Homo sapiens: one gene and its partners. The protein of the gene in region 1 purifies or fractionates together with the protein of each later gene. This does not show direct contact. Each region holds a gene or a part of one and is shown in the gene's direction. Other genes may lie near its edges. The genes, in order: RUVBL1, SHQ1, WDCP and H2AZ1.

Region 1 (7,026 bases):
CATCCCGGCTAACATGGTGAAACCCCTTCTCTACTAAAAATACAAGAAATTAGCTAGGCATGGTGGCAGGCGCCTGTAGTCCTTACATATTTTTTGAGGGGCTGCCATAAGTGTGGGACCAAGGTACTTCACAGTCCATGAGGAATAGAGGTAGAAGAGATAAGATGTATTCACAAGACTCTGGCACAGTGTGGTCACTGCCCAGAGAGAAGAGCACCTTTTAGATAGTCACGTATTCAGTTATTAAATCAGTGTAGCAAACCTTATATTATGTAATCCTGAGATATAGATGCTCAGCTAGTGTAACTTTCTCAGTGTTCCCCCCTTATAGTCAAATATTCTAAAATATATGAAGTTCCATAGCCCATTTATGGAATATGTGTGTGTATATATACACACATGTGTACTGCAAATGGTTAATAAAATTCAGAGATTTATAATGTATTTAAAATATACTAACAGATGATAAAGTAATTTAACCTTGAGGATTCAAAACATATTCAATGGATCTAATAGTGCCATAGGTTTAACTTCACATTCAGTATTTACAGTGTTCACTGATGGCCAGCTAGTACTCTATGTCATTGATTCTTACCCCTTAATAGGTTACTCTGGGAATTTGATGAAAGCTATGGATCCTTTCTCTGGAAAAAATGTATATATGAACATAAACACAGTTTCGTTCCCAACTTCAAGAGGTATTTGGGCCCCTGGCGTCTATCCCTGTACCCTGGGCCAAAAATCAGTGTTCCCACTTGTACTCATACTGTGCATTCTTCACACAGTAGTAGCTAGCACCATCTTTTAAAAACAAATCATAGCATGACACATAGTCTTCAAGACCTTTTCAGTGGCTTTGTATTATTTATGTAGAATAAAATCCAAACTTTACCACACACTGTAAGTTCCTGTTCTGCGTTCTGGCCGCTGTCTACCTCTTCAACCTCATCTTCCTGGTCTTTTTCGCTATACTTTGGTCACTGCAACCTTTCTGTCCCTTGGATATGCCAAGCTTGTTTCTGCTTTGGATTTTCTGAATTCGCTGTTTTCTTTGCCTGGAACGCTGACTCCTGCTCCTCCCAGAGGTTCACATATCAAATTAAATGTCATCAGAAAGACACTCCAGGATCACTTTCTAGCCACTCGTTCTCTCTCATCATCCCTTTTTCTTCATAGTAGTGATGAAGATTATGTGTGCAATGTTTGTATGTTTGTATCCCTCCCTAAAACATGAGCTCCACAAGTACAAGGCTTTTCTGCCTTGCCTTCGTTACCCTCGGCACCTAGAACAGTGACTGCAGTGCACTGGCACTCAGTGTTAGTTGGATGAGTGTGTGACTTGTGTAGGCCAGGGACTGAGATTTTTCCCCTTGTGAAACATTTTAATATTGATTTATTATTTCTTTCCATTGTGGTGTGTAGGCATGTGGCGTCATAGTAGAATTAATCAAAAGCAAGAAAATGGCTGGAAGAGCTGTCTTGTTGGCAGGACCTCCTGGAACTGGCAAGGTACTCATTTTCTCTCATTTTTTAAATCTACCCAGGAGAATGATCCTAGTGTCTAAGCCAAATTGAATTCATGTCTTAACTAGTCTTTGTTTAGCTAAATGGGTTATATGTATGTTTTTAAAATTAATATGCAATAATACAATTGGGTATCTAAAATCCCTGCTTCTAAAATTCAAATTATCCTGGCCTACCTCCAGAGAAGAAAGAATGAAGTCCTTGAAGGGGTCTCATTGTCTCTAGAATTTGTCCTTTTTCTCTTTCAAGTCTCCTTTGCTGTGGAAATACATTTCTGTTGGCCTAGGGCTTCATAAAGATCTTCTGAGTGACATCTTACTTGAGGGGACAAAAAAATGAGTCAAGCATTCTTCCAAATGCTAGCTTTACGCATCGCTATTGTGGCTGTGTGGGAGATGAAAAAAAGGAAAACAAGAATTAGAGACATGATTTTTATCTTCAAGGGGCTTACAGTCTCTCCAGGGCAGAAAGAAAGGAAATCATGACAGCACAGGAGGACTCAGTATGAGTGCTCAGCTTTGAGGTATTGACTAATATTAAATGCAGCTGGAATTTAAGGAGGCAGCACTGTGGGCTGGTACAGCTGGAAGGGTTGAGACTTGACATTTTCCCTTCAGAGCTGGGAGAGGATTTGGCTTTGCAGGGAAGATAAGGGCCTTTCAGGCAGAGGACACCGTGTGGCTTCTTGGGATTCGTGAGGGGACTGGCCAGATACTTGAAACTCACCAGAGTTCCCAATTTGAGCTTGCTTATTCTTCAAAAGGGCCGCTTGATGTGGGCAAGTAGGAGCTTGGGGTTGTGTGTGAAAAGAAATGGGCTTTAAATTCCAGCTCTAGTATTGACTTGCTATGAGACCTGAGGCAGGTCCCTTAACTTTTCTAAGCAAAAGCATACTCTACCTATTTCAAGCAATTATTAAACTGATCGATTGTAAGATAATGACTTGCATTATAATTTTGAAATGATTACTGATTGTGTATCTTATATTGGTATCTTACAAGAGGAAGAAGTGCTATATTTGTGAACAGTTTTTTCTCTTCCTATATAAAAGCAAATTGTGAACAGTTTTTTAAACTGTAAAGTGCCATACAGATGTGAGCTTCAGTTACCTCTCTCCAGGCAACATTAGCTTGTCCAGTGCATTTACCATTTATTTGCTTGCTATTCCTTATATCTTAGACCTTCTCTTTCCCTCCATTTTTCTTCTTCCTAAAGTAAATAATTTAGAAATTTCTTCTAGAAGTTTGTTGGTGGGAAAGTCTCTCACGTTTGCATTCATTATGTTGCCCTTGTTTTGAAAAAGAGCTATGTTGGCTATATAATTCAGTTGACAGATATTTTCTTCAGTACTGTTTCACAGTACTTCTCTCTCAATGTTATTTGCTCCTTTGGCTTCTGTTGTTTTTGAGAAGTCTAATTTTGAGGGTTTTGAGTCTTCTTTCTGCATGTTTTTGAGATATTTTTGGGTTTGGTGTTTCACTATTATATGTCAGAGTGGATTAATTTTTGTTTATCATGCTTAATGCTAATTGTGCTTCTTGAATCTGAGTATTATGTCTCTGCTCAATTCTGGAAAATTGTCAGCCTTAGGAGAATCGCTTGAACCTGGGAGGCAGAGGTATCAGTGAGCCAAGATCATGCCATTGCACTCTAGCCTGGGTGACAGAGCAAGACTACGTCTCAAAAAAAAAAAAAACAAAAAAACTGTCAGCGTTAATCTCTTCAGCTATTGCCTTTCCCCATTCTCTTTGTTCTTTCCTTCTGGAACTCCACTGAGATGAGGTTAAGATTGCAGTGGTTTTCAACCTGGGGCAGTTTTGCCCTTGCAGGGGACTTTGACAACGTCTGGAGACATTTTTGGTTCTCACGACTTGGTTGGGGGTGCTACTGGCATCTAGTGGGTGGAGGCCAGGGATGCTACTAAACATCCTGTAGTGCACAGAGCAGTTTCCATAATAAGGAATTATCTGGCCACAAACGTCATGGAGTCAAGCTGAGAAACCCTGGGCTAGAGCTTCTCGTTTTGTCCTCTTTGTCTTTTAGCCTCTCATATTTGTTATCTTTTTGACTCTGCTAAATTATGGGTAATTTCTTTTAGATCTTTGTTCCAGTCTAATTGTCTCTTAAGCTATGATTAAGTGACTGATTAATCCAATCTATTGAATATTTTTTTCCTTTTCATTTTGAAAAGTTTGGAACCTACAAAAAACTTGAAAGAATAGTGTGATGAGCCCCTCTATACCCTATACCTAGATAGCCAGTTATAAATATTTTGTGACATTTGCTTTTTCTCTAGTTTATTTCTGAACCACTTGACAGTAAGTTGTAAGGATGTCTTCCTACATGACCACGGTGCCATCATCAGACCCACCTTGCTAATGCTATTATATTCCCCCAATTTTTGTCAATTAAAAATTAAATTAATTAATTTTTAAAAAATGAGCAGCAGAGCCAGGGAGAGAATGGTGTCTCAGGAACCAAGAAAGGAGAACCTTTAAAGAAAGGAGTAGGTAACCATATCCACTGTGGTAGAGAAATCACAAAGATGAGGGAGCCTGGCAGCTCATCATATGATTCCATGAGCAGTTAACAAATGTGCTTTCAAAGACAACGAAGTTAAATTGTTTTAATGAAAAGAAAATATAGGTGATAGAAATCAGAAAACATCTTTCCAAGTTGTTTCAGTTTTTGGCTTTTTAAAAAACACCAGAATATCAAAATGCAATCAAAGATTACACACTGCATAAATTGTTACAAGTTATAATGTCTTTTTTTTTTTTTTTTGAGATGAAGTCTCGCTCTCTTGCCCAGGGTGGAGTACAGTGGCGTGATCTTGGCTCACTGCAATCTCTGCCTCCCAGGTTCAAACGATTCTCCTGCCTCAGCCTCCTGGGTAGCTGGGATTACAGGTGCCTGGCTAATTTTTGTATTTTTAGTGGAGATGGGGTTTCATCATGTTGGTCAGGCTGGTCTCGAACTCCTGACTTTAGGTGATCCACCTGCCTTGGCTTCCCAAAGTGCTGGGATTACAGGCGTGAGCCACTGTGCCTGGCCCCCAGATGTATTTTGTTATGGCCCACCTTTTTTACTCATGTGTGGCCCTTCAAGAGTCCTCTTTTATGTTTTTTTTTTAATTGTAATGTTTTTGTTTGTTTGTTTGTTTTTTGAGACAGTTTCAGTCTGTCGCCCAGGCTGGAGTGCAGTGGTCTGTTACCCAGGCTGGAGTGCAGTGATCTCGGCTCACTGCAGTCTCTACCTCTTGGGTTCAGGTGGTCCTCCCACCTCAGCCTCCTGAGTAGCTGGGACTACAGGTGCACACCACCACGCTTTGGCTAATTTTTGTAGTTTTCGTAGAGATGGGGTATCGCCATTTTGCCCAGGCTGGTCTTGAACTCCTGGGCTCAAGCAATCCACCTGCCTCGGCCTCCCAAAGTGCTGGGATTGCAGGCTTGAGCCACCGTGCCCAGTCCCGGTTTTATTCAGGGGTTTCTATCTTAAGTGCTATACCTTGCTGAGCTTTCCTGTATCTACAGTCTCTGAACTTTCAAGGCAAATAGTTTACTGCTCTGAATGTTATTATTTATTCAATTCTAGGTGTTTTGTAAGAGGAGAGGTTTTCAGTGGACCCAGTGTGCCATATTGCTAGAAGCATATGTCTTTCATTTTTTTTGGTGATATTGTATTGCTTTCCTCCCAGGAAATATGAGAAGTGCTCAGCACTGTGGTATTACCTTATAAGTTTGTCCACTCCCTTCCAATGTGTATGAAGGAATTTGGTGACTTCTGCTTAATGGTTTGCTGCAGGGTCCCAAAGTTTAGGCAACTTACCTGGGTGACAGGCAGAAATACTGCTTATTTTAGAGATGCAAATGCATGGTTCATATGCATTTCCACTCTTGAGGACCTCACACTGTTAATAATGGGTTTGGGTTTTAGAAGAAGGAGATATTCAGATGAGATTGAAAAATAGAGATTTCTTCAACCTTCTTTTGGCAACAACCTCTTTTTTGTGCCACTTGTCACTCACATGGGGTGAGTACAAAAAAAAATGGCTTTGGAGATTGGGGTTTGCATCCTGGTGCTGCTGCTTGCGGTTTTACCTTGGGTGTGTTGGTAACTTTTGAGTTTGTTTCTTAATCTATAAAATACAAACTAGATGATCAAGGTCATAGGCTAGTTGGGGAGATTCGATGAGGTCTATGCAGCACTCTGTAGTAGGTGTAGGAATAGTAGCCATATCATATACTTTCCCTCTGGAAGTCTTTAAATGGAGGAAACGAGACACACATGAAGCTTTTTTTTTTTAACCAAGTATTTATCATATTTTAATGGAAGTATGTTCATCTCTTCTGTATTAGTTAAAGGGAGGGAGAGTGCCATTGAATTGGATGTGGTCACTGTCTTTGAAGTTCAAAACTGAGGGTAGGGAATTGGGGCTGGCAGAGATACAAGGAAGAGAAAGGAGTAACTGGGAAGGGGTGGTCCTGTCCAGCCTGTGGCCCCACGGGGAGTCTGCTGTTAGAGTGCTGCTCCTCTCATTGTGCCCTTTCATGTTCCAGAGATTTTTTTCCTTTGCTCTTAGAAGAATACCAGTTTTCAAGGTGTCAGCCTTGAGCTCACAAGTGCAGATGCCTAATGAGGCAGGCAACGGGGATGAGGGAAGTGGCTGGGTGCACTGTGGCGTGTCTGCCTTGAGCCCCAGGTGCTCGGCCTTGCTGAAGGTCACCATGAGACTGCAGGCCAAACAGAACCAGGCTGTGAGCAACGAGTTTGCCACTTGTGATCTAGCATGGCACTTTAGTACTTTCATTTGACAGATGAGGAAATCGGGCACCTGAGATTTGCTGAGTGCCCAAGGTCACACTGAAAATTAGTGGCAGAACCAGCACTAATCTTTCTGTTCCTGGCTAGTGCATTTTATACTGTGCTATACACTGATTCTCTACCAGATTTTACTACCTCAAAACTATCACCAAAAGGGCATAGAAAAGAAAATCTGAGAGGAACCTTGACTGTTAATTTTAAGACACCGTCTCAGTTTCACTTTGTTCTTCAGTAACAAGCTTGTTTTCAGTCTTAGCCCATATACCTGGGGAGCTGGCCTTACTCGTGCTCCTGTTTCAGAGTTGAGGAAAGATGAAAATGGCATTTAGAGGCCATGGCATTGCCCAGTTCTGTACCAACTTTAAAGCATTTGCTTGCCATACTTGACATTTGACCGTACACCTGTGAAGTCTGGTTCTGTTTAGCATTTGCCAGCTGTAATTATCTTGTCAAAAATCAATTTGTAGTTTACCACAGGGCGTGTTTAAGTGTAACTTGTTAAGACCAACTCATAGCTTCAAAATCCTACTTGAGGTATCCTTCTTCACTCTTTGTGGGCTACATAACATAAAATGAACAATCCATTCATTCATTCCTTCATTATTTCTGATGGGTTGTAGATTGGTGTTTTCCTGTATTTGTAAAAAGAGAAAGCAGGTATCTCAAAGATCCAGTGGT
Region 2 (6,974 bases), about 55 Mb from region 1:
AAAAAAAGTTAGCTGCGTGTGGTGAAACATACCTGTAGTCCTAGCTATTTGGGAGGCTGAGGTGGGAGGATTGCTTGAGCCTAGGAGGTTGAGGCTGCAGTGAGCTATGATCCTGCCACTGCACTCCAACCTGGGAAACAGCACAAGACCCTGTCTCTGAAAAAAAAAACAACAAAAAAACAAAGAGTACAATTGTGGATAAACTTATTCTTGACAAAAATGTAGTCAAATGGAAATATTGTAATGCCACATATGTATTTTATATATTATATATATATATATATATATATATATATATATATATATAGAGAGAGAGAGAGAGAGAGAGAGAGAGAGAGAGAGAGAGAGAGAGAGAGATATGGAGTCTTGCTCTGTCACCCAGGCTGGAGTGCAATGGTGCAATCTCAGCTCACTGCAACCTCCACCTCCCAGGTTCAAAGGATTCTTTTGCCTCACAGCCTTCCGAGTAGCTGGGATTACAGGTGGTGCCACCACACCTGGCTAATTTTTTTGTATTTTTAGTAGAAACAAAGTTTTCCCATGTTGGCCACAGCAGTCTCAAATTCTTGACCTCAAGTGATCCACCCGCCTAGGCCTCCCAAAGTGCTGGGATTACAGGCATGGGCGACCGTGCCCAGCCTGTAATCCTATATTAAGTGAAGAAAGCAAATATAGATTATGACATTCTTTTGTTGAAAATACTTCCCATACTTTTATGAATAGGAGTCTGAAAAGATGTATGCCAAAATAATAACAGTGGTTAAGACGTAGTTTGCAAATACTGTGTAAGATTCCACCACCTCCCCAAAATGGCTCAGAGAATGAACTAGCGCTATAAACAACTTATTCAGGAAGCTATTTTTCAACATAGGTTAAAGCTCCATTCTTTGAGATAACATTGTTTTAATCACCTATATGCATGCCACCTTCTGGAAACAAGGAGTATTTCACCATTAAAAGACTTCTAACAATAGAACTTGGTAATAAAGCTGACATTGGAATTGTTTATAAAAACCATTTTTAATTTAACATTTAATTTGGAAGCTTATGGATCACAATCAGGGTTGTTAGACCAGAGGAGGGGCCAATTTAATATAATGAAAGATGATAGGTTACACACTTGTCCTACATAAGTTGGTCATGGAAAAAACTTTATCTTATTATTTTATTTCATGTTCTCTATAGGCCAGAAGGAAAAACTATTTTTAAAACAGTGGAAGGCCATTCAAAAGTAAGCTTTCAGAAAATGAAAAGATAAAAAACACTGCAACATTTGAATGCTCAAAAATGATGAAAAATTGCATTCCTGTTTTCCCCTCTAAACCAGAGCTAATTTAAAACATTAAAATAATGTCTTTATTCTCAAGCAATGTCTGTATTCAGAAATAGAAACTCAATTTGATCTATGAATCAATATAGCTATGTCTCAAAAATGAACCAAAGTAGGAAAAAAAGCATGTTGCAGAATTACTTTCATAGTGTGAGAATGTGCCCATATAAAGTGGGTCTAAACACAAAGCAACAGGGTCCATAGAAATGGATGTAGAAATAGAAAAGGGTCTGAAGTGATAGCTAGGACTGCCTTTGAGGAAGCAGGAGAAAGAACCAAAGTTGCATGGCAGCCAAAAGGAACTTTATGTTCTTAAGTGAGAATGAATCTATAACTTATATTTACCACTAATAGAAATGCAAAAATAAGAGAACTATTGCCTGCAAGAAAACAAAAACCAACAGAAACCCAAAACAACAAAACCTTGTTATATACTTGAAACTATCCGTATTTTGTGATTTAGCAGATGCAGTATATATTTCTTATAATGACGGCAGCACTGAACCATGTTGTCTGTTTTCCTGTGTTGCAGTCCTGTGTGTGTGTGTGTTGCCAGACACATAATAAAGTACCCAGGAAATGCACAGCTCTAGTTTGCAAAGTGCTTTCAATTAGAATTTCCTCATGGATAGCATAGCTTGTTTCAGTTGATTCTCTGGCATTAATAATTTAAAAATATTAATGCTTGTGACCTACAGGAATGAGGTCCCATGGCAGATGTAAAGATTATTTCTTTTTTTTTTTTTTGAGATGGAGTTTCACTCTTGTCACCCAGGCTGGAGTGAAATGGCACAATCTCGGCTTACTGCAACTTCCGCCTCCTGGGTTCAAGGGATTCTCCTGCCTCAGCCTCCTGAGTAGCTGGGATTATAGGCACACACCACCATGCCTGGCTAATTTTTGTATTTTTAGTAGAGACGGAGTTTCACCATCTTGGCCAGGCTAGTCTCGAACTCCTGACCTCAGGTGATCCACCCCCTCGGCCTCCCAAAGTGGTGGGATTACAGGTGTGAGCCACCGCTCCCGGCCAAGATTCTTTGTAAAGAAGCTAATTTGGAATAGTTTAGTCACAGGCCTATCTCAAGGGACCTTTTGAGAGCTTTATTAAATCAAAGTTGGCATCAATTCATTGTCAATATTGAGTGCCTATTACTTGTAAGGCTCAGTATGGTCTAAAGCAGGCAGGCTTGGCTTTAGAATGTGAAACAAAGTAGGTGGTAATAACAGAGGGAGTCAACTCTGTAATAGTGTAGAGCCTGGGCCTAGGAATCAGACTCACCTGGGTTTCAATTCCCATTGCACCACTTACTAGCTGTGAGATCCTGTGCAAGCCAAGGGAATATATAATGCCTACTTCATAGAGCGGTCAGGAGGGAGAATGAGATCATTACAAAGGGTTTGCTGCAGTGCTGGCACATAGTAAATATTCAGTTAATGTTAGCCCCTGTTACTATTAATTTTTTTTCTGAGTCCTAATGAAGTTTCAAGAATGTCTCCTTAGAATCATAAAACAGCTGGAGATTGAAAAGACTTTTGAAGTTTTCTGGTTATCTCCACTGTCCTAGGAGAGTACTTTTCATCCCTTTTCCACTGATACTTAAAACCACGGAATAAATACCACAACTGGATTATTCTAATTAGTGGTGGAATAACAGGAAACAACATGTGTGGAAAGGCCAAGGGAATATGTGGGGGAAGAGGGAAACCAGCGGGAGAGGCACTGAGAGAGTGTAAGGGGCACACTCCAAAGGGAGAAAATACAAGGAAGACAAGTAGAAAAAAAGACAGAAAAGATGTCCTCAGACAAGTGTAAGGACAAGAGTGAGAAAAAGGAAAGAAGGGGAATACAGAGGGACCTTAATTTGTGAATGCAGTCACCGACACGGTTTAAGAGTCAAACGTTCTGAGTTCTAATTACTGTAAAATGCATGGTTATAAAACGTACTGATTAACCTCTCTGAGCCGTTTTCTTTAGAGTTTGCAGCGTAGATTAGATGAGATTAGCGGGACGGACGCTCTGTTAAAGAGAAAACTCTTCAAATAAGCCGTTAAGAATGAGAGAGAAAGCTGCAGAAAAAGAGAAGTGGAAAGAGAGAGGGAGGAAAGGGAAAGTGTAAGAGGAATTGTTCACAAGGCAGGTGAGAACTAAGGGAAACCACTGTAACGGTGCTGCTGTGGCTACTGCGGTGACTACTTCAGCACATCAAGCGTTGACAACTTGCCAAGTTCGTTATTAGAGTTCTACATGCACAATTTCATGCTACCCTCACAGCATTTCTATGGGGCTAGGTTCTCGCATTATCCGCGTTTTACAGAAGATATAGAGAGGTTTTGTAACTTTCCCAAGGTCTTACAGCTGAGAAGTTGTGGCCAGGAAGGGATTCAAACGCACGTCTGTTTACCTGTCAAGCCAGTGCTGTTAAAATCATCTCTAAGAACCTCGAAAAAGGCTCGGTTGCTAGTCATCCCGCCGGTTCAACGCCGGCTCCCAGGCACCACTCGCCACGCCCTTTCTCCGCCCGGGGGTTTTGAAAGTTCCGCCTCTTCTCGAACGGCGTCCCGTCTCCATGGAGATTGGCGTGGGGAGAGACTTCCTGCCTTACGCGCGAGCACTTCCGCCTCGAGCCGGAAGCTCCGTCCCTCACACCGAGAGTTCCTGCGCGTGGGGAGTTGGAGAGTTTGCGTGGCGGGAACGCGGCGGCAGTGAGAGCGAGCGGCGCCGGCCCTTGCGTCCGGTGCGGCGATGCTGACCCCGGCGTTCGACCTCAGCCAGGATCCGGACTTCCTGACTATCGCCATCCGCGTGCCCTACGCCCGGGTCTCCGAGTTCGACGTCTACTTCGAGGGGTCTGACTTCAAGTTCTACGCCAAGCCATACTTTCTCAGGCGAGTTCGGGGTGCCTGGCCGCAGGAAAGGCGCATTCGTTAGATAGCTGCTTTAGAGGGAGAATGCAAGGTCGAGAGAGCAGTGCTCGATTGCGCGAATGCCTTTTCCCGACGTTTCCGCAGCTTCTCTTGGTGCCAGGGAACTGCCCTCTTCCAGGGGTGCGTTTTAGATGCTGCGGAAGCCCTTTTCCTTCTTGAGCTTTCTTAAATCCCATATCAAAGGATTGCGGAATCACTTGAAAAAGTGACGTTTGGACCGTGTCACTTTCCCGTTTCTGCCCTGTCGCCCTAGTTCTCGTCCCGTTCTGACTTGTTCTGTTCTTTCCTTTCACTCCGCGTTTGCTCTCCCAGTCTCTCCCTTCCTGGGAACGGCGCGCGCTGACATCTCCGTGACTTCCCAACCCGTCGGTCCTTTTAACTTTGCCCAGGCCGCCTTCTGTTGATCTATCTCTTGTCTGTCCGCTCCCTACTTACCGAAATTCTTACCTTTTTTGGACCTCTTGACACCAAATTAGCCTAGTTCTCCTGCTTCCCTGCTGTCTGCTGCTCTTCTGTTTGGTTTTGTCCCTGAAGTGTGGTTGTTTCCCCCAAGTCTCCGTGAGGGTCTGTCAGCACTTGATCTGTTTAAATTATTCTCCTTGCAGAATCGTAACCTTGGTAGCAGCTAACACTGATAACTCGTAGTGTGGTGGACAAGCAGTTCCGTTAAGTGCTTTATGATGGTGTATCTCATTTAACTTTGACGGTGATCCTTAGGGATAAGCACTGCTATTAACCCCATTCCACAGAACCCGCTGCTACATATTCATCCTAAAGTATTGCCAATCTCTTGTCCTTCTCTTTATCCATCCTCCTAATCTTTCTGAAGTGTAGCTGCATCCTACTTTTCCCACCCAAGTACTTTTGTGGTACAAACCTTCTCCACCAGTCAAGGTGGTTTTTTCACTGTTGCTGAACCAGTTTTGCTCAGATTTCCCTTAGACCATATAACGTCCGTATTTGAATTATTGCACTTTCCAGTTTTTTAATTCACTTATTTCTTTAATTTATTTATTGAGTTTCAGTGTTGGTATTATTGTGCTGAACAAGACAAAGTCCTGCCCTCATGTACTTTTCACTGGGGAGAGGAAAACAATAAACAGTGTACTTAATTGTGGTGAGTGCTATGAGGAGAAAGAAGTGCACTAATAGAGAATGAAAAAGGGCCCATGTTTTATAAAGTGGTCAGGAAAAGCCTTTCTGGGGAGGCGATATTTAAGCCAAGATGTGAAGAATAGGAAGAAGATTATGGTGGTAGCAAATATTTATTGAATTTTTACTCCAGGTTAGTGCTTTATACGGATTATCTCATTTGTTATTAGGACAGTGTTACAACGAGGCTTTATTATTTACCCGTTGCCGTGGATGGATTATTTGTGGGCACCCCCCCAACTCTTGTCCCCAAATTCATATGTTAAAGGTCTAATTCCTGTGTCACTTCTGCTTTATTGTATTCATCAAAACAGTCCCAGAGCCTGCTGAATTTTAAGGGGAGGGAACATAGACCTTCATGGTTGGGAAGAGTGCTGTGAGATGGGCATTCTTTGATAATACAGTTTGCCCCCAGATGTGGTGGCTCACTCCTGTAATCCCAGCACTTTGGGATGCCGAGGTGGGCAGATCACTTGAGGTCAGGAGTTTGAGACCGGCCTGACCAACATGGTTAAACCCCATCTGTACTAAAAATACAAAAAAATTATCTGGGCTTGATGGCACGCGCTTGTAGTCCTAGCTACTTGGGAAGCTTGAGGTGAGAGAATCGCTTGAACCTGGGGGGCGAAGGTTGCAGTGAGCCAAGATTGCGCTATCGCACTCCAGCCTGAGTAACAGAGCGAGACTGTCTAAAAAAAAAAAAAAAAAGAACATACAGTTTGCTATACCAAGGATGAATAAAACCTGGTCCCTCTCCTTGAAGAATGGAGACTGTAGCTGCGGAGGCCCCATGTAAGCAAATATAATTTTCTCTGCAGTAAGAATTTAACTCTAGGCTTATAGAGTTTAGGGGAAGGGAGCTGGTAATAATAGCTCACATTTTCTGAATGCTCACCTGTTGTGCCGGCCACTAAGCTCTTTGCATTATCATTTCATGCTCATAGTAACGCTTGGATAGTTACTGTTATTTCCCCCCTTTACAGAAGAGGGATTTATGATTCTTGAAGAATAATTAACTTGTACAAAGAAGGTTGTTACACATCTGGTAAATGGCAGATCTAGGAGTTAATTCAGATTCTGACACTAAAGTTAGCGTTTGTAACCATTATAACAAACTCATCCATAAACTGACCCCTTATTCTGGCTTAGAGGGATTTTCATTCTGAAAATGTATTGAAGCTTGAGGAAACCTTGGGATTAAAGGTCCTGGGCCTTTTGGGACTGTCAGCTGTTTTTGTTTTTAATCATATTTAGTAGGAAACAAGGGGGAGGGCCATGGGAAGAAAGGAAGCTCAAATTTCAAGTTTGGAATGATATGGAGTGGGCCTGATATGCCCTTCTGATAAGTTTAAATTATCTAGGCAACATGAGGCAGCCATAGACACTTTTTAAAATAGAAAAGTGACAATTAGATTCCTGTTTTAGAAAAATTATTTTGGAGCCTCAGTGGAAGACTGATTGAACTAGGGTAAAACTGGAAGCAGGGAAATCACTTCATTTCTTTTTTCTTTTTTTTTTTTTGGACACAGAATCTCACTCTGTTGCCCAGGCTGGAGTGCAGTGGCAA
Region 3 (7,026 bases), on another chromosome or scaffold:
TGTTATTTCATTGTGACAACCTTTTCCTTATATAATAGAGATACTCCTCCAGTTATAAAAAAGGTTATGTTGCTGGGCTCCATGGCTCACGCCTGTAATCCTAGCACTTTGGGAGGCCGAGGCAAGTGGATCACCTGAGGTCAGGAGTTCGAGACCAGCCTGGCCAATGTGGTGAAACCCTGTCTCTAACAAAAATATAAAAATTAGCTGGGCATGGTGATGGGCGCCTGTAATCCCAGCTACTTGGGAAAGCAGGAGTATCACTTGAGCCCGGGAGGCACAGGTTTCAGTGAGCCGAGACTGTGCCACTGCACTCCAGCCTGGGCAACAGGGCGAGACTCCGTCTCAAAGAAAAAGGAAAAGGTTATGTTCATTTAAAATGTTTTGATGCATTTCTTTATGCATGCATGTCCAAACATTATATAAGTGGGATCATATTATACATGTTTTTATCATGGACACTTTCCTCCTATATAAAATATGGCCTTGCCCCATCTTCCCCTTAATCCGCTGTAACCAGCAGCTTAACATGGATCCTTTCGTGACTTTCTCCATGGTCACATGATCTAACACAGGTCTTTGTGTACATAGATATATAGGTATGTGGGAATGGTTTGTCATTGTTTTTACAAAAATAGGGTGATATGGTGCACTCTTTACTTCATACTGAGAGTATGCTCTTTATTTAGCCATTCCCTTGTTGATTGACATTCACTTTGTTTTTAGTTTTTAGCTACTCCAAATGATGCTGCAGTAGTACTCTTATATGTATCCATTCATATTAGTACCTTTATTTCTGTTGGATTGGTTCCCAGAAGTAGAAATGCAAATTTGAAGAGTATATGTGTTTCTACTTTTAATTGAGTTACCAGATTGCCTCTCAAAGATTTTTACTTAACAGTGCATCATCACACGCCCGCCAGCTATGTATAAGGCTGTCCTTTTCCTCGTATGTCACCAATCTGATCAGTGACCCTCCTGCTTCAGCCTCCTGAGCAGCTGAGACTACAAGCACATGCCACCACACTTGGCTAATTTTTTTTTTTTTTAGCAGAGACAGGATCTTGCTATGTTGCCTAGGCTGATCATGACCTCCTGGGCTCAAGTGATAGTCTTGCCTCAGCCTCCCAAAGTGCTGGGATTACAGGTGTGTGCCACTGCATGTGGCCCCAACCCTACATTTTTTTAAAGAGGATTTTTGCCACATTAACTACATGGAGTTTTCAGTAGTAGAGTTTTAATTTTTTTTTTTAAGTCACAGCTTTGCTGTGAGGAGCATTTTATTTTATTTATTTATTTATTTATTTATTTATTTATTTATTTATTTTTGAGACGGAGTCTCTGTCACCAGGCTGGAGTGCAGTGGCGCGATCTCAGCTCGCTGCAACCTCCAACTCCCAGGTTCTAGCAATTCTCCTGCCTCAGCCTCCCAAGTAGCTGGGATTACAGGCACGTGCCACCACACCTGGCTAATTTTTGTATTCTTAGTAGAGGCGGGGTTTCACCGTGTTGGCCAGGATGAGCTCAATCTCCTGACCTTGTGATCTGCCCGCCTTGGCCTCCCAGAGTGCTGAGATTACACGTGTAAGCCACTGCGCCCGGCCTAATTTTTTTTTAATTAAAAAAAATTTTTTTTTAACTATAGAGACAAGGTCTTGCTATGTTGCCCAGGCTTGTTTGGAAGTCCTGGGCTCAAGCAGTCCTCCTGCTTCAGCCTCCCAAAGCGCTGGGATTACAGGTGTGAGCCACTGCACCCAGCCATAGTTTTGATTTTTTTAAAATTATTTTATTTATAAATGTGATAACTGGTTTGGATTTCTTTCCTACTATGACTTTTTAAAGAGTTTGTTTTCTTTTTCTTCTGTCTTTTTTTAATAGGTAATTCATTTATTTGGTTTAAAAAGCAAAACTGTATTTTAATAAAAACTGTATACCAAGAACTCTTATTCCTACCCTATGTTTCTTCAGCCTGTTCTCCTTTCCTCCTTTAGGTAACCATTTTTATTTTTATTTCTTTATGCAGATACTAGCAGACTTTAGTTATGTATTTTTATTTCCCCTTTTGTTACACAAAAGGGAAGGTGATATACACACCTTTTCATTTTCCATTTAATAGTATGTCCTAGAGAGCTCTTTATATCAGCACACAGAGCTCTTTTTTCATCTTTTTTTCCACAGCTGCATAGTATTTTTTTTTCCTAATTACAAAAGTAATATATACTTGTTGAGGAAAAAAATTTTACCATTACAGAAAGTAAAAATTTTCCATAATCCAACCTTTAGAGAAAATCACAGATATAGCTAAATATTTTATTAGATGTTAGATGTAAATATTTCCATATTTTTTCTGTACATTTATCTAATCCAAAAAAAATCTAATATAAAAATATATTATTTTTAAAATTTTCTTTAAATAGGCTATTTTACTTGCAAACAATAATATATCTTTCTGTTTTTAAAACACTTATAAATGTAAAATTTTATATTTTTAAAAACTAAGGTTAAAACAACCATGTTTGGCCAGGCACAGTGGCTTAAACCTGTAACCCCAGAACTTTGGGAGGCCGAGATGGGTAGATCACTTGAGTCCAGGAGTTCGAGACCAGCCTGGGCAGCATGGCAAAACCCTGTCTCTACCGAAAAATACAAAAATTAGCCAGCCGTGATGGCACCCACCTGTTTTCCCAGCTACTTGGGAGGCTGAGGTGTGAGGATCACCTAAGCTGAGGAGGTTGAGGCTGCAGTGAGCTGTGATCGTGCCACTGCACGCCAGCCTGGGAAACAGAGCAAGACTCTGTCTCAAAAAAAAAAAAAAAAAGTTTTGTTGCCCTTTCAATTCCTCAGTTTTTTAGTTTATAATTATGTCATCCAACCAAGCTGTTGTCAGTAGTTATCTCTGGAGGATAGAATTTTGGGGGCTTTACTGTCTGCATTATATATTTCTGTTATATTTTTATTTTATTTATTTATTTTTAGATAGAGCTTTGCTTTGTCACCCAGGCCGGAGTGCAGTGGCGCGATCTTGGCTCACTGCAACCTCCGCCTCCTGGGTTCAAGCGATTCTCTGCCTCAGCCACCCAGGTAGTTGGGATTACAGGTGTGCACCACCACACCCAGCTAATTTTTGTATTTATAGTAGAGATGGGGTTTCACCATGTTGGCCAGGCTGGTCTCGAACTCCTGACCTCAAGTGATCCACCCGCCTTGGCCTTCCAAAGTTCTGGGATTACAGGCGTGAGCCACCACACCCGGCCCTATTATACTTTTAAAAAATTGATCATTTATTCCTTTTGTAATGAGAAAAGTAAAAGTTACACAATAATCAAAAGCAAGAAATAGTTTCCCCTGTAATTTCAGAAATTACATTTCATAAGACGTGAAATAAATGATTAGTTGGTTTTGACTTTTACAGTTTATTCCTGTGACTTCATTTAAAAATATTAGTGGACATATTCTTTGAGTGGTTCATCCTACCACAGTGATGTATAGTTTTATTTTCTTTTTATGAGATGGGGTCTTGCCATGTTGCCCAGGCTGCTCTCCAATACCTGGGCTCAAGCAATCCATGCACTCTGGCCTCCCAAAGTGCTTAACAACAAAATAAGTTAGACACATAACTTATACAACTGTCCTTCATTTATTTATTTATTTAGAGATGGAGTCTGTCTCTGTCACTCAGCCTGGAGTACAGTGGCACCTTCTCAGCTCACTGCAACCTTTGCCTCCTGGGTTCAAGTGATTCTCCTACCTCAGCCTCCCGAGTAGCTGGGACTACAAGTGTGTACCACCATGCCTGGCTAACTTTTTTATTTTTTGTAAAGACAGGGTTTTGCCATATTGCCCAGGCTGGTCTTGAACTCCTGGGCTCAAGTGATCTGTCCATCTTAGCCTCCCAAACTTTTGGTACTAAGGGGTGAGCCACTGTGCCCAGCCAATTTTTAATGACTTTAAAATTTACAAATCATTTATTTTTATTTGTGCTTTTTCTAAGCTATGTGAATTTTGACCATGGTTTGTTTATTTTATGCAAATCCTCTGCTACTCTACCACTTAGGACACTCTCTCGGCATTTTTTTTCCTAATAAACCATGAGGTGTCTTAGCTATATCTGAAACAGCCAAGAAGGTGTTCTTACCGTCAGATTGTGTCTCTCAGGCTGCTGTCCATCATCCTTTTAGTGTTATTAGTTGTATTCTAGGAGAGCCAGTTCCTAGTGATGAAGAACCCTGAGGAAAGAGTAGAACAAAAGGAAAAATAAGGCTGTTTTGTTCGGATTTTTTAGTTGTGTTAAATAATGCAGCAAAGAGCTCCTTAAAACTGAAGTCCAGTTGATTAGTGGTAATAGATAAGAATTTTTTAAAAAACTATTTACACATTCCTTTCTTAAGAAATGTTAACTCGATTACTTCTGCAATCAGTTTAACAACTTTTATTTTTTATTTGCAGAAACCTTATTATCTAGGTCCTGTTGTTGAAAAAAGAGCGGTGCTTCTCTGTGATGGTAAACTAAGGCTCAGTACAGTTCAGCAGACTTTTGGCCTTTCTCTCATTGAAATGCTACATGGTAGGTCGTGCTCAGAAATTGACCCTAGCTAACATCCTTGCCTCCCCCACCATCTGTTTTAACTATGCCGGTAATGAAAATGAGGGATACCAACCATTCAGTAATTCACTGGATAGTTAACAAGTAATCTATTATTATTATTATTATTGAGACAGGGTCTTGCTCTGTTGCCCAGGCCAGAGTGCCTCGGTGTGATCATAGCTCACTGCAGCCTCGAACTCCTGAGCTCAAGCAATCCTCCCATCTCAGACTCCCAACTAGTGAGAACTATAGGTGTTCACTACCATGCCCAGCCAAGTTTTGTTTGTTTGTTTGTTTGTTTTTTGGAGATGGAGTCTTGCTCTGCCACCCGGTCCTGGAGTACAGTGGCGCAGTCTCAGCTCACTGCAACCTCCGCCTCCCGGGTTCAAGCAATTCTCCTGTCTCAGCCTCCTGAGTAGCTGGGACTACAGGCGCACGCTGCCATGCCTGGCTAATTTTTTGTATTTTCGTAGAGACGGGTTTCACTGTGTTGCCCAGGCTGAGCTCAGGCAATCCGCCTGCCTCGGCCTCCCAAAGTGCTGGGATTAAAGGCGTGAGCCACTGCACCCAGCCTCAGCCAAGTTTAAAAAAAATGTTTGTAGATAACGGGGTCTCACTCTGTTGCCCAGGCTGGTCTTGAACTCCTGACCTCAAGTGATCCGTCCACCTTGGCCTCCCAAAGTGCTATGATTACTGGCATAAGCCACCACACCCAGCCTTAACAAATATTATTAATTGCCTACTATATACCCAGGCCTAGTATAGGTGCCAAAACATATGGAAAATATGCACCCTGCCCTTAGGGAACTTACAGCCTAGCTGGAAAAGTTAAATGTACATATGAAAAAATAAGAAAAGACTTACAAAGCAGTGTATAACAACTGCAAGGAAGTAACAGAAAGCCTCATTTATTTCTGTTGCACTAAAATGTAAAGATCATAGCAGCATTGCAGAATGTTTCTTTCTTTCTTTTTTTTTTTTTGAGACCGAGTCTCACTCTGTCACCCAGGCTGGAATGCAGTGGCATGATCTCGGCTCACTGCAACCTCCGCCTCCTGGGTTCAAGCGATTCTCCTGCCTCAGCCTCCCGAGTAGCTGGGACTACAGGCACATGCCACCACGCCTGGCTAATATTTTGTATTTTTAGTAGAAATGGGGTTTCACCATGTTAGCCAGGATGGTCTCGATCTCCTGACCTCGAGATCTGCCCGCCTCGGCCTCCCAAAGTGGTGGGATTATAGGCGTGAGCCACTGCGCCCGGCCTACAGAATATTTCTTTGAGGAGTTGCCATTCTAATATGGAGTAAACATGGATGTTCAAAGGATATTCCTAAGTGGCAAGGGACTGAGTCATGCCAGATTCATCAGATGTGGAGCATGGTTGTTTTCTTATGCCTCATTCTTGTAACAGTAGCCACCACATTGAACATCAAATATCATTTCATTTTTTCCCCTTTTTCTCCTACCTGACCCTAAGTAATACCCAGTCTTCCCAATACCCCATTCTCTGTAAAATCTTACAAGGATTGAGTTGAATATTATCAACTACTATATTCCTTCACTCAGAAAAAAAAATTTGTAGTCATATGTTTCATCATAAGAATAATATATACTAAATTGCCTGTGTATTTATTTTTATTTGCAGATTCCCACTGGATTCTTCTCTCTGCTGACAGTGAGGGCTTTATCCCGTTAACCTTCACAGCCACACAGGAAATAATCATAAGAGATGGCAGCCTGTCCAGGTCAGATGTCTTCAGAGACTCTTTTTCTCACAGTCCAGGTGCTGTTTCTTCTCTTAAAGTCTTTACAGGCCTTGCTGCCCCCAGTTTAGATACCACTGGCTGTTGTAACCATGTAGATGGCATGGCTTGATATCTGCAGTGTCCTTGCTGTGTAGCTCTTCAGATGAGACCATTACAAACAAGGCCTGCTTGACACTGGACACTCGCCAATGAGACTCCCACTGCACTCAGGCGAAGCGCTTGCCATGGTCGGCTCTCCTGGTTTCCCCCTGTTTCCCCTGAGCTGAGGCTCGCTGCTGTGTAGCAGAGCTCAGTCTTTATTAGATGGCTCCGAAAGTGGTGTTTATGTATTCATGACTGTGTGGTTTTGACTAAGGGCAGAATTCTCAGAACAAAACAATATTATGGTGCCATATGGATGGTGTTTTATGGTTTCTCTGAGGCTTTGTGTCCCTTGTCCAAAGCTGCATTGAAGCTGTCTTAGGAGCACTTAAAAGATACCTTGGCATTGTTATAGGTCTTTTTCTTGGCTTCAAGAGGAGGTTGAGGAGTCTGCTGGGGGGCATGTGCTCTAGCATATTAACCTCAAACCAGCAAGAATTAGCAGAGCTCCAAGGAGGACCAGAGACCCACTGGCTTCTGCTCTCAGGAACAGGAAGTGGCTCTGATGTTGCCTGGACCTCCCAGAATTTAAAC
Region 4 (7,348 bases), on another chromosome or scaffold:
TAGTTGGTACACTATGTGGTTTAGGAAATTACAGGAAAAAATGTCTGTATATGTTTAGTACAGATGCAACCATACTTTTTAAAATTAGAAAGTCAGGGCCTTGCTTTATTACCCAGGCTGGAGTGCAGTGGTGTGATCATGGCTTACTGCAGCCTTGAACTTCTAGGCTCAAGGGATCCTCCTGCCTCAGGCTCCCTAGTAGCTGGGAGTACAGGTGTGTACCACCATGCCCGGCTAATTGAAAAAAAAAATTTTTAGAGACAGGGCCTTGCTATGTTGCCCAGGCTGGTCTTGAATTTCTGGCTTCATGGGATCCTTTTACCTCAGCCTCCCAAATTGTTGGGATTACAGGGATGAACTGCCACACCCCAAATGCAGCTTATTATTATTATTTTTTCTTGAGACCAAGTCTCACTCTGTCACTCAGGCTGGAGTGCAGTGGCATGATCTCTGCTCACTTCAGCCTCTGCCTCCCAAGTTCATGCGATTCTCCTGCCTCAGCCTCCTGAGAAGCTGGGATTACAGGTGCATGCCACCACACATGGCTAATTTCTGTAGTTTTATTAGAGACAGGGTTTCACCATGTTGGCCAGGTTGGTCTCAAACTCCTGGCCTCAAGTGATCCACCCGCCTCAGCCTCCCAAAGTGATGGGATTATAGGTGTGAGCCACGGCGCCTGGCCACACCCAGCTTACGTTGTGAATATTTTTGATCCTCAGTTGGTTGAATCCATAGATGTAGAACACAGGAATACAGAGAAGGAGGACCCACTGCCTAGGCAAATACACTATTATTTAGGAAAAAAATTTCAACACATGGACTCCCTTCCCCTGCCCTGAAAATCCTAAAGATCGATATTGATATCAATAATAGATAATAAAAGGATATGATAAGAATCTTGATTTTTTAATTTTAAAACAATAAATTTCCAAAAATTCTGAGGACTAATGTATGGAAAAAGTAAATTAGTGCTATATTAAAAGCATGATCTTTTGTTTTCCTGAAATGGCAGTGGATCTGGGTGGAGTAGATTCTGCTGATCTTTGTCATCTATTCCCTGCATTTGTGAATTGTTACCTGTGTGCAATCTGTGATCATGAGAAGTGCAAAGCTGGGCAATTTGGAATTTAAATCGATGGCTTTGGTTTTATCAACACTGAATTAAACACATAGGCTTCTCAACCTAAACAGAATTCAGGAAGGACTATGGCCTCGGTGCCAAAAATATTATTACATCACTCTACATATTCTTCGCACTTAACGAAACTCTTTCACAATTCTATCAAGTTGGTTTATCTGGTGTTACGAATCCCTATTTAATAAATGAAACTGTGCCTCAGTGTTTTACATACTTCAGGCCATATAGCAAGTAAGTGGCTACCCAAACTCAACCCTCATTCTTTTACTCTAGTTCAATATTTTGCATAATACCACACTGGAACTCAGTTATTCACAGCTGTGTGAATCCTTGAAGGCACATATTTTTCCTAGGTGCCCTAGGTAGAGAGAACCAAGATTCTAATGTAGATTTCCTGATGAAAAGAATTTTGCCGCCATTATCGATCTAGGCTAATATCCTTGGAAATAACTTGAGAACTTATTCATATTTTCTTAAAAATACGTTTTTAAGGCAAGATGTAGTTGAGAAATTTATAATTCCCAATTGTAAGACTCTCAAATTCTCTACATAAAAAGACAAGAACAATAGTAGTTAACATACATGCTAGTGTTTCAAAGGAGATAGCAACTAGTCATGGAAAATCTGGCTTAGTTAGGAAAAGGCTATTAAGGAAAGTGTCAATAATAGTGGGTTCGCCTACCTCATCTGAGGATTTTTTGTTGTTTTTTCGAGACAGGATCTCAGTTTATCACACAGGCTGGAATTCAGTGGCACAATCATGGCTCACTGCAACCATGGGCTCAAGTGGTCCTTCCACCTCAGCCTCCCGAGTAGATGGGACCACAGGCAGGGGCCACCATGCCTTGCTAATTTTTGTATTTTTAGTAGAGATGGGGTCTCGCTATGTTGCCCAGCCTGGTCTTTAACACCTGGGCTGAAGTGATCCTCTTGCCTTGGCATCTCATATTTTTTTATGGTGAGAGAACTAATTGGGTATGGCATTAAACAAAAGTAATTACATAGCTCTGGCTAAGTACATTATATACATGCATTACTATTAACACAGGAACTGGAAAGATAAACCAACAATATTAACATATTTGCATCATACCTTTTCTGGGGGGGGCAGGAAAAAGAGTAGGAAATCATCATACCACTCTGAGAAAAGTGCAGAAAGTAATACTGTCCTGTTCTCTGAAGGAAAATTATTGAGTTATTAAACCAATTTTGGATTTTAGTTTGGATGTTGGAAGACTTGGTTGTGTATACTTTGGGCAGGTTTCAAGCTTGCTGCTTCCAAATCGAAGAAAGAAAATAAACCAAATAGCAAAAAAGATTTAGAAATAAAAGATACTTTATTTCATCCCTCTCCAGCATCCAATGTAGAAAATAATAGCAGTTATTTACTGAGGGCTAACTACGTGCCAAACACATGCTACTATGTACATTGCATACCTTTTTCCTTAATCTTTCAACCATGTGAAAATAGATGATACTATCTTTTCACAGAATAGGAACTCGAAGCTCAGAAAGATTAGTAACTAAGATGACACAGTGAGGAGGAGGCAGAACAGAATCCATCTGTACTTGCTTCTGAGTTCATCCTCCTAACCACTATTCAGCGAGGCAACAGTAAATTCCCTTTATGGGGCTTCATAGCAAAGAGCTGGCAGAGTATTATCTAAACTAGAGATGGCATTAATGTTGGTTTTTTATATATCACAAAGCTTCCCTGGAGCCATCGTTAACTATCAGGTTTCATAGCTTAATATATCATTATTATATTATCAGTAGGAAAACGGCTGAAGTCTTGCTATCGACGACATCATAAGAGTTCCTTGGTTCCAAGAAATAATAAACCTCAATGTCAAAATTGTTGGGAAGCTCTTCTCTAGAATTTATCTCACAGAAATTGGGAGGTCCTCTAATTCGATAAAATCTTTCAAATTGAAACCCAATCTAAAGTACTTCAGAGTATATGTTTGTTGTTGTTGTTGTTGAGAAAGTCTCGCTCTGTTCCCCAGGCTGAGTGCAGTGGCGCAATCTTGACTCACCACAACCGCCGCCTCCCGGGTTCAAGCAATTCTCCTGCCTCAGCCTCCAGAGTAGCTGGGATTACAGGCGGGCGCCACCATGCCTGGCTAATTTTTGTATTTTTAGTAGAGATGGGGTGTCACCATGTTGGCCAGGCTGGTCTTGAACTCCTGACCTCGTAATCTGCCCGCTTCGGCCTCCCAAAGTGCTGGGATTACAGGTGTGAGCCACCATGCCCAGCATAGAGTATATGTTTCAAAATGTTCGTCACATTGAAACTATTCAATTATGTTAAAAAATGTAATACACTAAAACACTGCAAATGAGATTGAGACACTACTGTCCCCAAGCAGCTGGAGATGTACATAGGTGTTAATAACCTACTAGTTGGAAGGATAGTACTGTGTGTACAGTACCATTACTTTAACCTCATCATTTGCAACTGATTGCATTGCATGGACCCTCTAACTGCCTGAAAATCATGTCAGAGTTACTCCATCGACATTTGCCGAACATTTGTCATGTGGCAAAATACTTACTGTAGAAAAGTTGACACATAATAGCTCTGAGGTTTCACTAAATGAGCTTTACACACCAGGCTACAGGTACAACCCATTGATGTGTAGTCTCCAAAAAATATGGTTTATGATTTGATTAAAGAATACTGCCTCGCCAGAAGCTCCCTAAGTATAGACAAAAAGGGTTTCGTGACCAGTGAGGTGACTTGGCTTCACCGTTTGCTGTCACAGAACTATTCCGTGGAGGATTTCATAAGTAGTGAGGGAGAGGTGGAAGACCCGGCTGAAAATAAAGTGGGAGCAGCGGGTCGTGATCTGTTGGTGGCTGGGGACTCGCCTAGACGGAAGAAACACGGAATCTCTACTAAGGCTGTGGAAGGCGTCAGGGCAAACCTCAGACTCCTCTCACTGGACGCGTTCGCGCCACCTGTCAGACGGGAGGAGCCGCCAGGGATTGAGAGGGTAGGGAAGGGGTGTCCGGGGCCCCGGAAAGCGGCTGCGGGTCGCAGGTCTCCGCCCGAGAGGCGCTGGGAATGGGGCTGGGAGTGGTGGGGGCGGCGTGCTACATACCGAGGAGACTTCACGTGGTCTCTAGAGCCCTGCTAGGGGACCCGGGACGCTACCGCGCGCCCCTCCCCTGAGGTCTCAGCTCCTCCTCCCAGGCACGTGATCGCAGCCGGCTGGTAACTGCGCTCCTGCAGCGTAGCTCGCTCTGTTTCTTCCCTCCCGCCGCGGTGCCCTTCTTCTCCCCCGTTCCCATCCCTCCGCCTTCCCCCGCCTCTCCCCCCACGCCCCAATCGCGGCTTGAGATTAGAAGCGCCCGCCCCTCCACCCTTTTCTTCGCTTGCTCATTGGCTGAAGTCTCAAGGACGCGTCCCGAGGGCGGGTGGCAGCCATTGGTGGGATGAGCAATCCGAGTTCCCGGATGAGGGAACATTCTGCAGTATAAAGGGAGCAGGGAAGGCGGGAGACAGCGCAGTTTGAATCGCGGTGCGACGAAGGAGTAGGTGGTGGGATCTCACCGTGGGTCCGATTAGCCTTTTCTCTGCCTTGCTTGCTTGAGCTTCAGCGGAATTCGAAATGGTAAACTTCGCAGAGACGCTCGATGACTCCGCGGGTTTTTGCCGGCGAGAGAAAAACCCGTTACACAGAGGGATGGGGGTGAAGTGGCGACGGTTGGGAACGCGCGGAGACAGGATTTAGAAGAGTGGGGGGAGGTGTTTTGTCGGCTGCTAGCGGAGCAGCCTCGGATCTCGCGGCGGGCGGCGACGGTTGGGTGGCGCGCGCAGCGCCGCTGGGGGCCGGCGGGCGGAGGCGCGCGGCCGTGGCGAGCGCGCGGCGGGGGGCGAACGGGCGGGGTCGCCCCTGCGGCGCGCCGCGGGCCGGAGACCCCGGCAGGGTGCGGGGACGCGCTCGCGGCGGGACGCGCCGCGGTGGGGGATGGGCGCGCCGCCTTGGTAATTCTATATTCTCCGTTCCTCCTCCGCTCGCGGGCGTGTGCGCGCCGCAGGCTGGCGGTAAGGCTGGAAAGGACTCCGGAAAGGCCAAGACAAAGGCGGTTTCCCGCTCGCAGAGAGCCGGCTTGCAGGTCAGTAGTTGTTCGTGCAGTCTGGGAGTCATGATGTTTTTCTTTGCATTTCCTTTTTTGTTATTCATCGCTCTCGATGGGCGTTTTGTGTATGCGTGGGTGATGCGGTGTCGCGACTTGGGCTGCCCATACGATAAATATGGGGGGGAGGAATCACGTGTTTCGATGTCGGGACGCGTTGCTGCGCCCGTGCCCCTTGCTTTGGCGCGCATATAATTTCCCCATCTCTAGTTCTCATTTTTGTGCATTTATGTTTGTGTATGCTTAAAATTTAAGTTCCCAGTGGGCCGTATTCATCGACACCTAAAATCTAGGACGACCAGTCATGGACGTGTGGGCGCGACTGCCGCTGTGTACAGCGCAGCCATCCTGGAGTACCTCACCGCAGAGGTAAATGGGTGAACGCCTATAATCCGGAGAAGGTTTGGGGGGCGGGGAGGCGGCAAGAGGGAAGGAGGAAAGTGATGCAAGAAAACTCCCAGGCCCTGAACGCGGCGAGAGGCCTAAGAGAACGCTAGAGGGAGCTGGTGTTCAACAAGGATCCTACTGAGCTTGAGTTCTCTGCTCTTGGAATTAAAATTGCGTGCCCCCTGTATATCTTGCCAGTCAGATAGTGAGGAACGATTCCAGTTGGTAGATCTGCGTTTGTGAGGGTTTTATTCTGTTCTCTGAATCTTGGCCAAAGGAAAGTTGGAAGGCAACTGACAGATTCTGCCTTTTAGGTACTTGAACTGGCAGGAAATGCATCAAAAGACTTAAAGGTAAAGCGTATTACCCCTCGTCACTTGCAACTTGCTATTCGTGGAGATGAAGAATTGGATTCTCTCATCAAGGCTACAATTGCTGGTGGTGGTATGTTAACTTCTAACATTTTAAAAAATTTCTTCAGAGGAAGGAATTTTTTGCTGCTTTTAATTAGTTTTTCCAGGAGAGGAAATTTAAGTATATTTTCAATGATGGAAGTATGGTTGTATCATGAAATTTGATTTATATGTATAACTCAATGAATTTTTACTTCATACTTGAGCTGCATGTTTTTAAAGATACCTTTCAAGTTGAACAGTATACACTTTCTTGGTTTCAAATACTGTGATTTTTTAAAAAATCTTAAGTAGAATTAATTCCTGTCACTCTCCTAGGTGTCATTCCACACATCCACAAATCTCTGATTGGGAAGAAAGGACAACAGAAGACTGTCTAAAGGATGCCTGGATTCCTTGTTATCTCAGGACTCTAAATACTCTAACAGCTGTCCAGTGTTGGTGATTCCAGTGGACTGTATCTCTGTGAAAAACACAATTTTGCCTTTTTGTAATTCTATTTGAGCAAGTTGGAAGTTTAATTAGCTTTCCAACCAACCAAATTTCTGCATTCGAGTCTTAACCATATTTAAGTGTTACTGTGGCTTCAAAGAAGCTATTGATTCTGAAGTAGTGGGTTTTGATTGAGTTGACTGTTTTTAAAAAACTGTTTGGATTTTAATTGTGATGCAGAAGTTATAGTAACAAACATTTGGTTTTGTACAGACATTATTTCCACTCTGGTGGATAAGTTCAATAAAGGTCATATCCCAAACTAGTTGTGTATTAAATTTGCTTGGTTGTAATAGGAACTTGTTTTGAGTATCTCATCTAGCAGCAATAACTAAGCACATTTCTTTGTGACTGAACTGTCAAATCTGTAGATCAACAAAGTGAGATAGCCCAAGTATATTTTTTTAATGTTATATGAGCTACTAAAGTTTTAATTTAAAAAGTTGGCAGGAGCTGGAGTGGGATTGTCAGTTTCTTAGGCTAAGTGTGACCATTTCAGTTTGTACATTGGCTTCGCTTGCTGTGTGACAGCACTGCACTAGTATGCTGTTAGCATGGTGGACTTGGGGAGGGAGAGAATAGGTAGGAATGTCCTGTATATCCACAGAATGAACTCCGAATTTAAACTTTAAAGATAATAGTGCTACGTGCCAGGCCCTGCTTTGAAGTCTGAAGTTGTTAAGTACTCAGTAACATCATTGGGGATATACTATCTCCATTTTATCGAAGAGAAGCAGGGTTTCTTATTTGAAAGTACCGAGTTATGGTAGTTAGC

The links.
Region 2: the proteins of RUVBL1 (region 1) and SHQ1 purify together in Homo sapiens (affinity purification with mass spectrometry; 4 studies listed by BioGRID and IntAct, with this or other methods). This does not show direct contact.
Region 3: the proteins of RUVBL1 (region 1) and WDCP purify together in Homo sapiens (affinity purification with mass spectrometry; 7 studies listed by BioGRID and IntAct, with this or other methods). This does not show direct contact.
Region 4: the proteins of RUVBL1 (region 1) and H2AZ1 purify together in Homo sapiens (affinity purification with mass spectrometry; 6 studies listed by BioGRID and IntAct, with this or other methods). This does not show direct contact.

The regions. Positions count from the first base shown.
Region 1 is NC_000003.12:128,113,811-128,120,836, reverse strand, and holds part of RUVBL1 (ruvB-like 1), read left to right. Parts: intron 1-1,422; coding exon 1,423-1,509; intron 1,510-7,026. UniProt on the Homo sapiens protein: Possesses single-stranded DNA-stimulated ATPase and ATP-dependent DNA helicase (3' to 5') activity; hexamerization is thought to be critical for ATP hydrolysis and adjacent subunits in the ring-like structure contribute to the ATPase activity.
Region 2 is NC_000003.12:72,845,440-72,852,413, reverse strand, and holds the start of SHQ1 (protein SHQ1 homolog), read left to right. Parts: upstream 1-3,968; 5' UTR 3,969-4,073; coding exon 4,074-4,216; intron 4,217-6,974. UniProt on the Homo sapiens protein: Required for the quantitative accumulation of H/ACA ribonucleoproteins (RNPs), including telomerase, probably through the stabilization of DKC1, from the time of its synthesis until its association with NOP10, NHP2, and NAF1 at the nascent H/ACA RNA.
Region 3 is NC_000002.12:24,030,367-24,037,392, reverse strand, and holds part of WDCP (WD repeat and coiled-coil-containing protein), read left to right. Parts: intron 1-4,135; exon of another isoform or gene 4,136-4,187; intron 4,188-4,446; coding exon 4,447-4,564; intron 4,565-6,230; coding exon 6,231-6,460; 3' UTR 6,461-7,026.
Region 4 is NC_000004.12:99,947,575-99,954,922, reverse strand, and holds H2AZ1 (histone H2A.Z), read left to right. Parts: upstream 1-4,647; 5' UTR 4,648-4,752; coding exon 4,753-4,755; intron 4,756-5,182; coding exon 5,183-5,260; intron 5,261-5,536; coding exon 5,537-5,650; intron 5,651-5,982; coding exon 5,983-6,112; intron 6,113-6,399; coding exon 6,400-6,461; 3' UTR 6,462-6,835; downstream 6,836-7,348. UniProt on the Homo sapiens protein: Variant histone H2A which replaces conventional H2A in a subset of nucleosomes. Nucleosomes wrap and compact DNA into chromatin, limiting DNA accessibility to the cellular machineries which require DNA as a template.